2 linked regions of the Homo sapiens genome follow. The protein of the gene in region 2 interacts with the protein of the main gene of each other region in a pairwise test. Each region holds a gene or a part of one and is shown on either strand. Other genes may lie near its edges.

Region 1 (4,312 bases), on a different chromosome or scaffold from region 2:
AGAGGAGATGTGGCCCTCCTTATGCACCACCCAGTTTTCAACCATGGTTACTTTTTTTTTTTTTTGAGACGGAGTTTTGCTCTTGTTGCCCAGGTTGGAGTGCAGTGGCGTGATCTCGGCTCACTGCAACCTCTGCCTCCCAGGTTCAAGTGATCCTTCTGCCTCGGCCTCCCGAGTAGGTGGGATTACTAGCTAATTACTAGCCCGCCACCACACCTAACTAATTTTTTGTATTTTTAGTAGACATGGGGTTTCATCATGTTGGCCAGGCTGGTCTCAAACTCCTGACCTCAGGTGATCCGCCCGCCTCAGCCTCCCAAAGTGCAGGGATTACAAGCCAACCATGGTTACTTTTTTTTCTTGCTAAACAGTCATTGTCTATATTTTATTTTTAAAAACCATTTTATCTTTTTTTTCTCATTTAAACAGGTGATTTCAGAGAAGGAAAATAACTTTGTTTTGTAGTCAGTGGTAGAAAAGGTTTACTGTCAGTTGAAAGTTTATAGCCTAAGTAGTAGTAGGTAGGGAAATTTTCCTAATGTAACAGTAATACTCTAAGTGATGCCTGTATTAACATTTCTTACCTATAAGGTCCCTAAAACAGCCTCTACCAAAGTTAACTTGAGCATTTAATAATTATTCCTAAGATGGTTAAAACAACTTTCTATGAATTGTTATCACTGAAAACACCAGTAGTGACTTACCTGCTGGTGGCTTTATGAAAGGTGGTGGAATTAAAGGTACAATAATGGGCACACTGCCATGATCCTTTGACCCTGCAGGTGAGTCACTGAGTCCATTTCCAGTGGCAAGCCCTGAATAGCCTGTGCTTATATTGTATGGTGAAATAACACTGTCCTCGGGTAATTTTGGTTTTGGCAAAGAATTTTCTGTAAAAGAAAAAAATCATATTCAATGTGACCAAGGAATGTAATGCAGTAGACTTAAATTTTTCCTTATTTTCTCAAGTAAAATGGCCATGAACCCAACATATTTTTTCTTGCAAATCTTTAAACAATGTACTAGAACTCCACAGTTCATCCAGGAACTTTTTAGTGTGGTTACCATAAATTTCCAATGGGCTCCTTTATAATTTGCTCCACTATGATAGCTAATATTCCAGTTGAATCATGGTGATAAATTTTAGCACTGTAAAATTCCATAGAAAATTGAGAGGTGGTGGCTGGGCAAGGTGGCTCACGCCTGTAATCCCAGTACTTTGGGAGGCCAAGGAGGGTGGATTGCCTGAGGTCAGGAGTTCAAAACCAGCCTGGCCAACATGGTGAAAGCCCGTCTCTACTAAAAATACAAAACTTAGCCGGGCATGGTGATGTGTGCCTGTAGTCCCAGCTACTCGGGAGGCTGAGACAAGAGAATCACTTGAATCTGCGAGGCCGAGGTTGCAGTGAGCTGAGATCATGCTACTGCACTCCAGCCTGGGTGACAGAGCAAGACTCCATCTCAAAAAACAAAAACAACACAAAACAAAACAAAACAAAACTGAGAGGTGACTAGGCGCAGTGGCTCAGACCTGTAATCCCAGCACTTCAGGTAGCCAAGGCGGGCAAATCACTTGAGGCCAGGAGTTTGAAACCAGCCTGGCCAACATGGTGAGACCCCCGTCTCTACCAAAAATACAAAAATCAGCCAGACATGTGGCGCACGCCTGTAATCCCAGCTACTTGGGAGGTTGAGGCACGAGAATCGCTTGAACCCAGGAGGCGGAGGTTGCAGTGAACTGAGATCGCGCCACTGCACTCCAGCTTAGGTGACAGAGCAAGACTCTGTCTCAGAAAAAAAAAAAGAAAGAAAAGAAAATTGAGAGGCAATTAACCTTTTTTTCCATGTACAACATGATATACAGCAAGCATAGCTCTCTGGCTACCAGGGGAAAGCCTAAAACGTGCCCTCCAGCATTGTAACTAGGTCCCACTGTATTATAAACTTGTATCATAATATAATCACATGAACCAATGAGAAAGAAACAGGGAAGAAAACTGATGCTTCACAAGGTATCGATAATACCCATTAAAAAATAACAAAAATAAAAATTTTAAAAACTTACAACGATATGAGCTTTGTGCATCGTATCCTTGCATGTGAATCACTTAAAAAAACAAATGAACAAAAACCTCAACCATGGAAAACAACTTTTTCGTTCTAGTAGCATATCCTGGCATGCTGTATGTTCCCCAGAAGCAAAGATTATTACCTAGGCCAAGTATTATATGAGCTATTAGTTTATAGAATACAAACTCATGACTTGCATTTTTCATTTACAGTGAAATTGATGATACTATCTCTGTAGCATGATGTGTACAATTTCATAGTAAGCTTAACATAAAATTTGTCATGTACATTCAATTCCACTTGCCTGCAGGGCAGCTCAATTACATTTCCTTGCTTGGCATATAAGAAGGGAAAGCTCTATCTTAAAGACTGGAAATAAAACGTTTGAACAGGTAGTTTATGCCAATAGATTTTGAATGCAACGCAAATATTGATCAAATTGCCAGTGATGATGTATAATTTGTTTTACCCACATTTTATTAAAGTTTCCTGAATGGGCTGCTTCTTCACATACTTCTCTTTTCTTTGACAAGCAAGCTCTCATTCCTAATTTAGGTTCATAAATTCAGTATTCATACAGACTTCCCCCATGAGATATCTGGCACTGTTACCCACTGGTAGAATCAGTGTTAATTCAGCTCTGCCAAGGCTCTGTAATTTTCACTCTTTAGCTGGGCTTTGATTAAAAAATTCTTAAAGAGTAATATAGGCTCTAATCATCTACCACTCTCTTACTCCTCTTTTTACCCTATTCAAGTGCGTGGGGGCAGGGAAAGAATGAAAATGTCAAGCAAAACAAAAATAGTAATTCCGTTTAGATTTCCCACTGAAAAAAAGGAAGGAGGATTACCAAACTAACAGTGAATCTCTCTAGCAGTCTGAAGATCTAAACCTAACATTTCACTTAACAGAAACCCCAGTCCCCAACAGATGATGATCTATCAAAGTGATCAGGAAACTCTAGTTAGCAAACATTGTCCCTTTCTTTAAATCTGTATGCAGGACCATGGCACTTAGGTCGCTAGTCCTTGTCTAGTTCTCCCATTGCTGGGAGGAGATTAAGCTGTGTCTATTTTTGTTTTATGTTGTTCTTTTATATTCTGCAGAATTCTGCTTATGGGAAAGCACTATTGGGGATGTATGTTTAAATCAACCATTGGCATAATCAACAAAGCAACTCAATTGAGTCCCAAAGCAACTCAATTCTGGCAGGTTGAGATAGTTAATCCTTCTTTGCATGAACAAAAGGACATTAAATGTCATTACCTTTGAGAACAGAAATGTGCTGCCGGCTCTCCCCATCTGTAGGGTAGCTCCTGAATTCAATATCCTCACCATCTTTTAATTCAACCTTATCATAGCCATACCAGCCAAGGAGTTCATTCATGGTGTTTTCTGCAAAGTTCTGAAAGAGAAGCATAGGCTACTACTTATTTCTATAATCAATAACTACTTGAAAAGAATGCATAAATTGAATTCTGCTTGTCCTACCTCATTTATTTGCAGCCCTGCCTCACTTCCCCTAGTGTGGTGTTCATTTTTCAAATCATGTTCAAAACCATAATGTTTTTAAATCTTAGGATGATGCATTCAATTATGACAGGGCTTCAGATATTTGTAATTTAAAGATAATAAGACAAAAAAGACTAACTATATTTGTTAGTGTTGCCTATGAACAGGAAGTCATATTTTAGCACATTAGTCTATAAAATCTATATCCAACATCAATACAAAAATATTGAAAGGTGAATCACAAAAACAGCTAAGAAAAGATTTTGAAAATGAAAACAACCTTTTGTGGTTCAGATCAATTTCAATTAAAATTGCTTTCTGATTTAGGTGTTGTTTTCTTAAGATAACTCTTATCGCGGATAACGCCAAATTTCAACAAAGAAAAATTTCAGAATTGTTAACAGTACCATACAGAAAGCTAGGTTACAATAGGTTACAAGGGTCTTCCTTTTTTATTTTTTTCCTTCTGCAAGAGTTTTTTCAAAAATCAGGCCAGGCACGGTGGCTCACGCCTGTAATCCCGCACTTTGGAAGGCTGAGGCAGACAGATTACTTGAGGTCAAGAGTTCAAGACCAGCCTGGGCAACATGGTGAAACCCCTTGTCTACCAAATATACAAAAATCAGCTGGCCCTGGTGGCACACACTTTTAATCCCAACTACTCGGGAGGCTGAGGCAGGAGAATCACTTGAACCTGGGAGGCAGAGGTTGCAGTGAGCTGAGATCACAC
Region 2 (5,028 bases):
CTGCCGTGCAGATGCAGCACATGGCTGCCATCAATGCCAATGGCCTCATCGCCACCCCCATCACCCCATCCTCAGGTATGGCCTGGGCAAGGCCGGGCAAGGGAGCTAAGCATGGTAGGGGTAGGGAGGGGCACAGGGCATTGCTCAGGGAAGCCTCGGGGTCTGGGAGGGACTCAGGGGTCAGAGAGGCCTGCTTCCTCCCCTCTGCCCACAGACTTGCTGACTGGTTCTCTGCCTGTGTGTGTGTCTGCTCCTCTGCTCTCTCCCTGTCGCTTTCTCCTCCCCAGGAACCAGCACCCCTCCTGCCATCGCTGCCACGCCTGTCTCTGCCATTCCGGCTGCCCTGGGCGTCAACGGCTACAGCCCGGTGCCCACCCAGCCCACTGGGCAGCCTGCCCCTGATGCTCTGTATCCCAACGGGGTTCACCCCTACCCAGGTGGGACTCTCTGCCTGCCCACTCCGTCCCAGCAACCATCTAAACCACCACTCCCATTAGGGAGGCAGGACACACCTTCCCTCCCAGCTTTGGGGGTACAGGTGCTTCCTCCTGCCCTGCCATCCTGGGCGGGGATGATCCTTCCTGTTGGGCTCGGCCAGGAAGCTGAGGTGTAGAGCAGTGAAGCGACCTGTCCAGGGTTGCAAGACAGTCAGACCCAAGTCTTCCTAACGCTGGGCTCTTTCCCCTCTTCCCACTGCTTTGTGCATTTCTGCCTTCTCACTTCACACCCCATGCCCAGAGAAGCTCTGCTCCCCACCTGCCTGGCCTCGGCCCAGAGGCCCAGAGAGGCACTGAGGGCCCCCACTGTGTGCCAGGTCCACGCTCATAGTCTGTGCTGCTCTCCCCAGCCCAGAGCCCCGCGGCCCCCGTGGACCCCCTGCAGCAGGCCTACGCGGGGATGCAGCACTACACAGGTGAGGCGCCCTAGCCAGGGCCCCTGCTCAGGTGGGAGAGGTGGCAGGAGGAAAAGAGGCCCAGTAACTGGGTCTGGGCTTCTTGGCTCCCTGCCAATCACCCTCTTCAGGCTTTACTGACAAGCCCAACTGTGGGGAGGGGTCTTTAAGGGCAGCACACCCAGGGGTCTGAGGCAGCTCCTTCCCTGACCACCTCTCAGCCCTGCAGGTGCCACTGGCCTGGGCTAGGGGAAGGGAGACAGGGTTGGCTGGGAGGGCTCAAGAAGTCAGGGAAGCCCCATCAGCCTCTCTCTTCTCCCCACCCCAGCAGCCTACCCAGCAGCCTACAGCCTGGTTGCACCTGCGTTCCCGCAGCCTCCAGCCCTGGTCGCCCAGCAGCCCCCACCACCACCTCAACAGCAGCAGCAGCAGCAGCAGCAGCAACAGCAGCAGCAGCAAAGAGAAGGTGCTGGCTGGGGCCTTGGGAGACAGGAATGCCCTCGTTATGGGCTTGGGGACTCCCTGTCACCCCGCGCTGAGCCCAGCTCTTGCCCACGTGTCAGGATGAAAGCAAGTGGGGAGGGAGTGGCCGGAGACTTGGCCCACACTGTCAAGGACTGGGACTGGAGGGCACTCCCAGGATCTGCTTTCCCTGGGACATTTGCTTCTGGGGTGTGTGCCTCCCAGTCACTGAGCTCTTTCTTCTGTCTCTGTCGCCACCCAGGCCCTGATGGCTGCAACATCTTCATCTACCACCTGCCCCAGGAGTTCACTGACTCAGAGATCCTCCAGATGTTTGTCCCCTTTGGCCACGTCATCTCAGCCAAAGTCTTTGTTGACCGAGCCACCAATCAAAGCAAATGTTTTGGTAAGAATATGATATGGCACATTTTTTGCCATACTCCAAATCAGGACAAGGTCTAATATATTTGAAGGCATTTATGGTCACAGTGGACCCAGTATTTGAAATACTGATTATCCAAGAGTACAAAAGAGCCATTTTGACACACCCAACATGCCACACCCAGCTGCTGCCTCGGCCCATCTCTTCTTCCTTCAGCGTTTCTCTTAAAAACTGGCCAAATTCATGTCCCATGAGGTCTGAAATAGGCTTATGGTCTGGGGATGTTTGGTTTGCAAAAGGTGGGCTTGGGGAGTCGGTTTTAGCTGCCTTCACATCTTTGAAAGTCTTCCTCAGGGGAGAAAGGGAATGTTCTTCTCTGCTTCAGAAGCCATTTAGGGTCTGGAAGTGGCCGTTTTCAAAGGGCAGGCTCAGAGCTATCCAGGCAGAGGAAGGGGTCACTGGCACAGAATGCTGGGAAGAATGTGGTAGTTGGAGTGGCTGGACTGGATTCATCCATTCAACCCATCAATCAACAAATTCCTAAGGAATGCTGCTATGTGGCAGGCAGCTTTCTAGGCATTTGGGACACTTGGGAGACACAGGGTAGTGCCAGAGGTCTCCTAAGCACGGAAGAGCGAGGTGGGGCTGGGCCGGGCCTTATGCCCCTCTCACCCCAGGCTTTGTGAGTTTCGACAATCCGGCCAGTGCCCAGGCTGCCATCCAGGCCATGAATGGCTTCCAGATCGGCATGAAGCGCCTCAAAGTCCAGCTAAAGCGGCCTAAGGATGCCAACCGGCCCTACTGAGGGCCCCCAGGTGGGTCCCGCTCCGTTGTGGCCTCCCTCCCCAGCTTCACACACTGCAGCCAGGGCCCTCGATTGGACTACACCCCCAACCCCTGTCCTCCACCACCCTCAGGGATGCCCACCCCACCCTTGACCCTGGGCACTTGAAGCAGGGGGCTGGGGCAGCTCCCTCAGCTGTTTTTCAATAATCTGAGTCACTCTCTCTCTCTCTCTCTCTCTCACACACACACACCCTCCGTGACCCCAGAAAGAGCCAAGTCTTTGTATATATGTGTCCACTCCCTGGACCTTCCACAATATCTGGTCTCGTTTGTCTGGTCAGTGTCCATGTCTGTGTGTGTCTCTTTCTGGTTTTCCTTCGGGTTAGAGTGGAATTAGGGGAACAGGACTGGAGGATTAAGGGGTTGGCTGAGGGTGCCAGAGGGCCCTAGAATCCTTGGCTCCTAGAATCTCTGTTGTCCTGAGAAGTGAGGACATCAGCCCTGGTTTCCCTGGACTTCAGGTGATTTTTCCCATGTAGCAGCAGACCCATGGGGCAGCAGAGTGCACAGGACAGACTGGGGGAGCCCATTTTCAGGCCTCTTGGGAGTTGCTCTGGTTTAGGTGGAAGAGGTTGAAATGTCGCGCCGCCTGTGAAGTTTACTTAGGTCTCCTCCACCCCATTGCTGGCCACCACCTCAACCTCATGGCCACAGAGCTGTGAGCCTTGGTTACTTTCGCACTGTTTAATCTCCTTTGGACCAAACCCTTGAGAAAACACAACCCAAGAAAAATACCCACATTTTCTGTTTCTCCCCTTTCCCCCCAATCCTGGCTGCTTAACTCCCCCAACCCTGGGGGCCCCCCCAGCCCAGGGCCCGTGTCCATTGTCGGCCGAAGCCCCCATCCCCGGACCCCTGCTCCGGGCCCCTGTAAGTTGCATGGAACGAGCGTGTTGTCTTTGGAGCCGATTGTTTGTTCTTTGGGGAGGGGCCGCGGAGGGAAGCACCCCCAAGCCCAAGGTCAGGGCCGGGGGCAGCTCGCGGGACGTGCTTGGTCTACAGTGGTTGGTGACTGTGGTCTGTGTTCTGTGCATTTCTCTTGCTTTCTGTGTTCCTTTCCAAAAAGGAATGAGAGCACTAACTGGGGGCCGGGGGTGGTCTCACCCCATGAGACTCCATCCCTGAGCCGTGACCTGGGCTCTGCCCTGGCCTTCTCTGCGGGTGTTCCCTTTCTTTTTCCAGGTGTCTGTCTCTTACACGCACCCCCTTCTCTGTCTCTCTCTCGATTTCTCTGCCTGCCTGTCTGTTGTCATCTCTTTGCCTCTCTCCCCCTCCAGTCTTTATTTTTCTCATGGGCTATCTATTTCCTTCCTAATACCGTTTGGTTTCCTGTATGGTTTGCCCCCTCCCTCCTGTCTCCTCTATCCCTGCTCTCATGGCTGGGGGTGGGGGCAGATGGGTCCGTTTGGACTGAGGCCTGATGATCTGCCTTCCTCAGGCAGCCCCATCCTAGATGCTGTCACTCACCCCAGCCCCCTCCCCTCCCCCAGAGCCCGTGATCCGCATCGGGGGTCTCTTCCCCATGCTTCACCCATGTTTCTTCCTTCACAGGTCTGGAGATCCCAGAGGAAGGGGCGCCTCACACCCTCTTCCCACGACTGGCCCCGGCCCTCTCCGCACACCTGCCCTGGGCCTTGACTGGGTTCTGGGGCAAACGCTGCTTCGTGGCCCCCGGGGGCACAAGACACCGGCCCCTCCCACCCCCCTGCCTCTCTGAAGGGCCATGGCTATGCTTCCCTGGCTCCAAGGGCCCATTTCCTCCTAGATGCCCTTTTGGCCTTTGTGAGGGAGCGAGGAACAGGCTCGAAGGCTCCGGGGTATCTGCCTTCTGCTGGGCTCCTGTGACAGGCCTTCTGTACCCAGCGTTTGTACTTGCCTCCCCCAACAGTGGGCCTGTTCTACCCGTGCAGGCCCCAGGAGAGCCGCAGGGGCCTGCCACACACTCCCAGCTCACCCTCACCCCAGCCTCTTCCCCACATTAGGGGTTTCTTGGAAGCTGGCTCTCACTCCCCTCCACCCTCAGCTAGAGGTAGGATATCCCTGATTCCTGGGCTCCCAGCCCTAAAACTCACTGCCTCCCCCAAGGGCCCCCTCTAAGGAGGGTGTGGGGGAGCCCTGAGGGCTGCCTCTCTGCCAGTCAGCCACAGAGACCCTCCTCCTTTCACGAGGAAAAGACCTTCCCCTGAACCCCTAAAAATGTTTACAGTCTCTGCTGGTTCCCTCTGTGTAAATACCACTACCACCCGTGCGTTATCCAGCCCGCCCGGCCTGGCCCGGACGCTGCCATCTCTCTTTCTGGGAGTTTAGACAATGTTGCCCTTGGATTTTTTTCTCTCTCTTAATTTCTCCCTTTGCTTTGGGGGGTAATTGGGTATTGGGAGGAGGGGTGTGGGGAGGGGTCAAGGGGTTTATTACCTGATCATTTTCTTTAGGAAGAGGTTTTAGG

What was found.
Region 1: the proteins of CELF3 (region 2) and SOBP interact in a two-hybrid assay, tested with the Homo sapiens proteins (one large-scale study listed by BioGRID and IntAct).

The regions. Positions count from the first base shown.
Region 1 is NC_000006.12:107,502,820-107,507,131, reverse strand, and holds part of SOBP (sine oculis-binding protein homolog), read right to left. Parts: intron 3,476-4,312; coding exon 3,337-3,475; intron 3,328-3,336; exon of another isoform or gene 2,066-3,327; intron 891-2,065; coding exon 705-890; intron 1-704. UniProt on the Homo sapiens protein: Implicated in development of the cochlea.
Region 2 is NC_000001.11:151,702,554-151,707,581, reverse strand, and holds part of CELF3 (CUGBP Elav-like family member 3), read left to right. Parts: coding exon 1-75; intron 76-287; coding exon 288-437; intron 438-847; coding exon 848-913; intron 914-1,220; coding exon 1,221-1,358; intron 1,359-1,616; coding exon 1,617-1,760; intron 1,761-2,413; coding exon 2,414-2,541; 3' UTR 2,542-2,551; intron 2,552-4,133; 3' UTR 4,134-5,028. UniProt on the Homo sapiens protein: RNA-binding protein involved in the regulation of pre-mRNA alternative splicing. Mediates exon inclusion and/or exclusion in pre-mRNA that are subject to tissue-specific and developmentally regulated alternative splicing.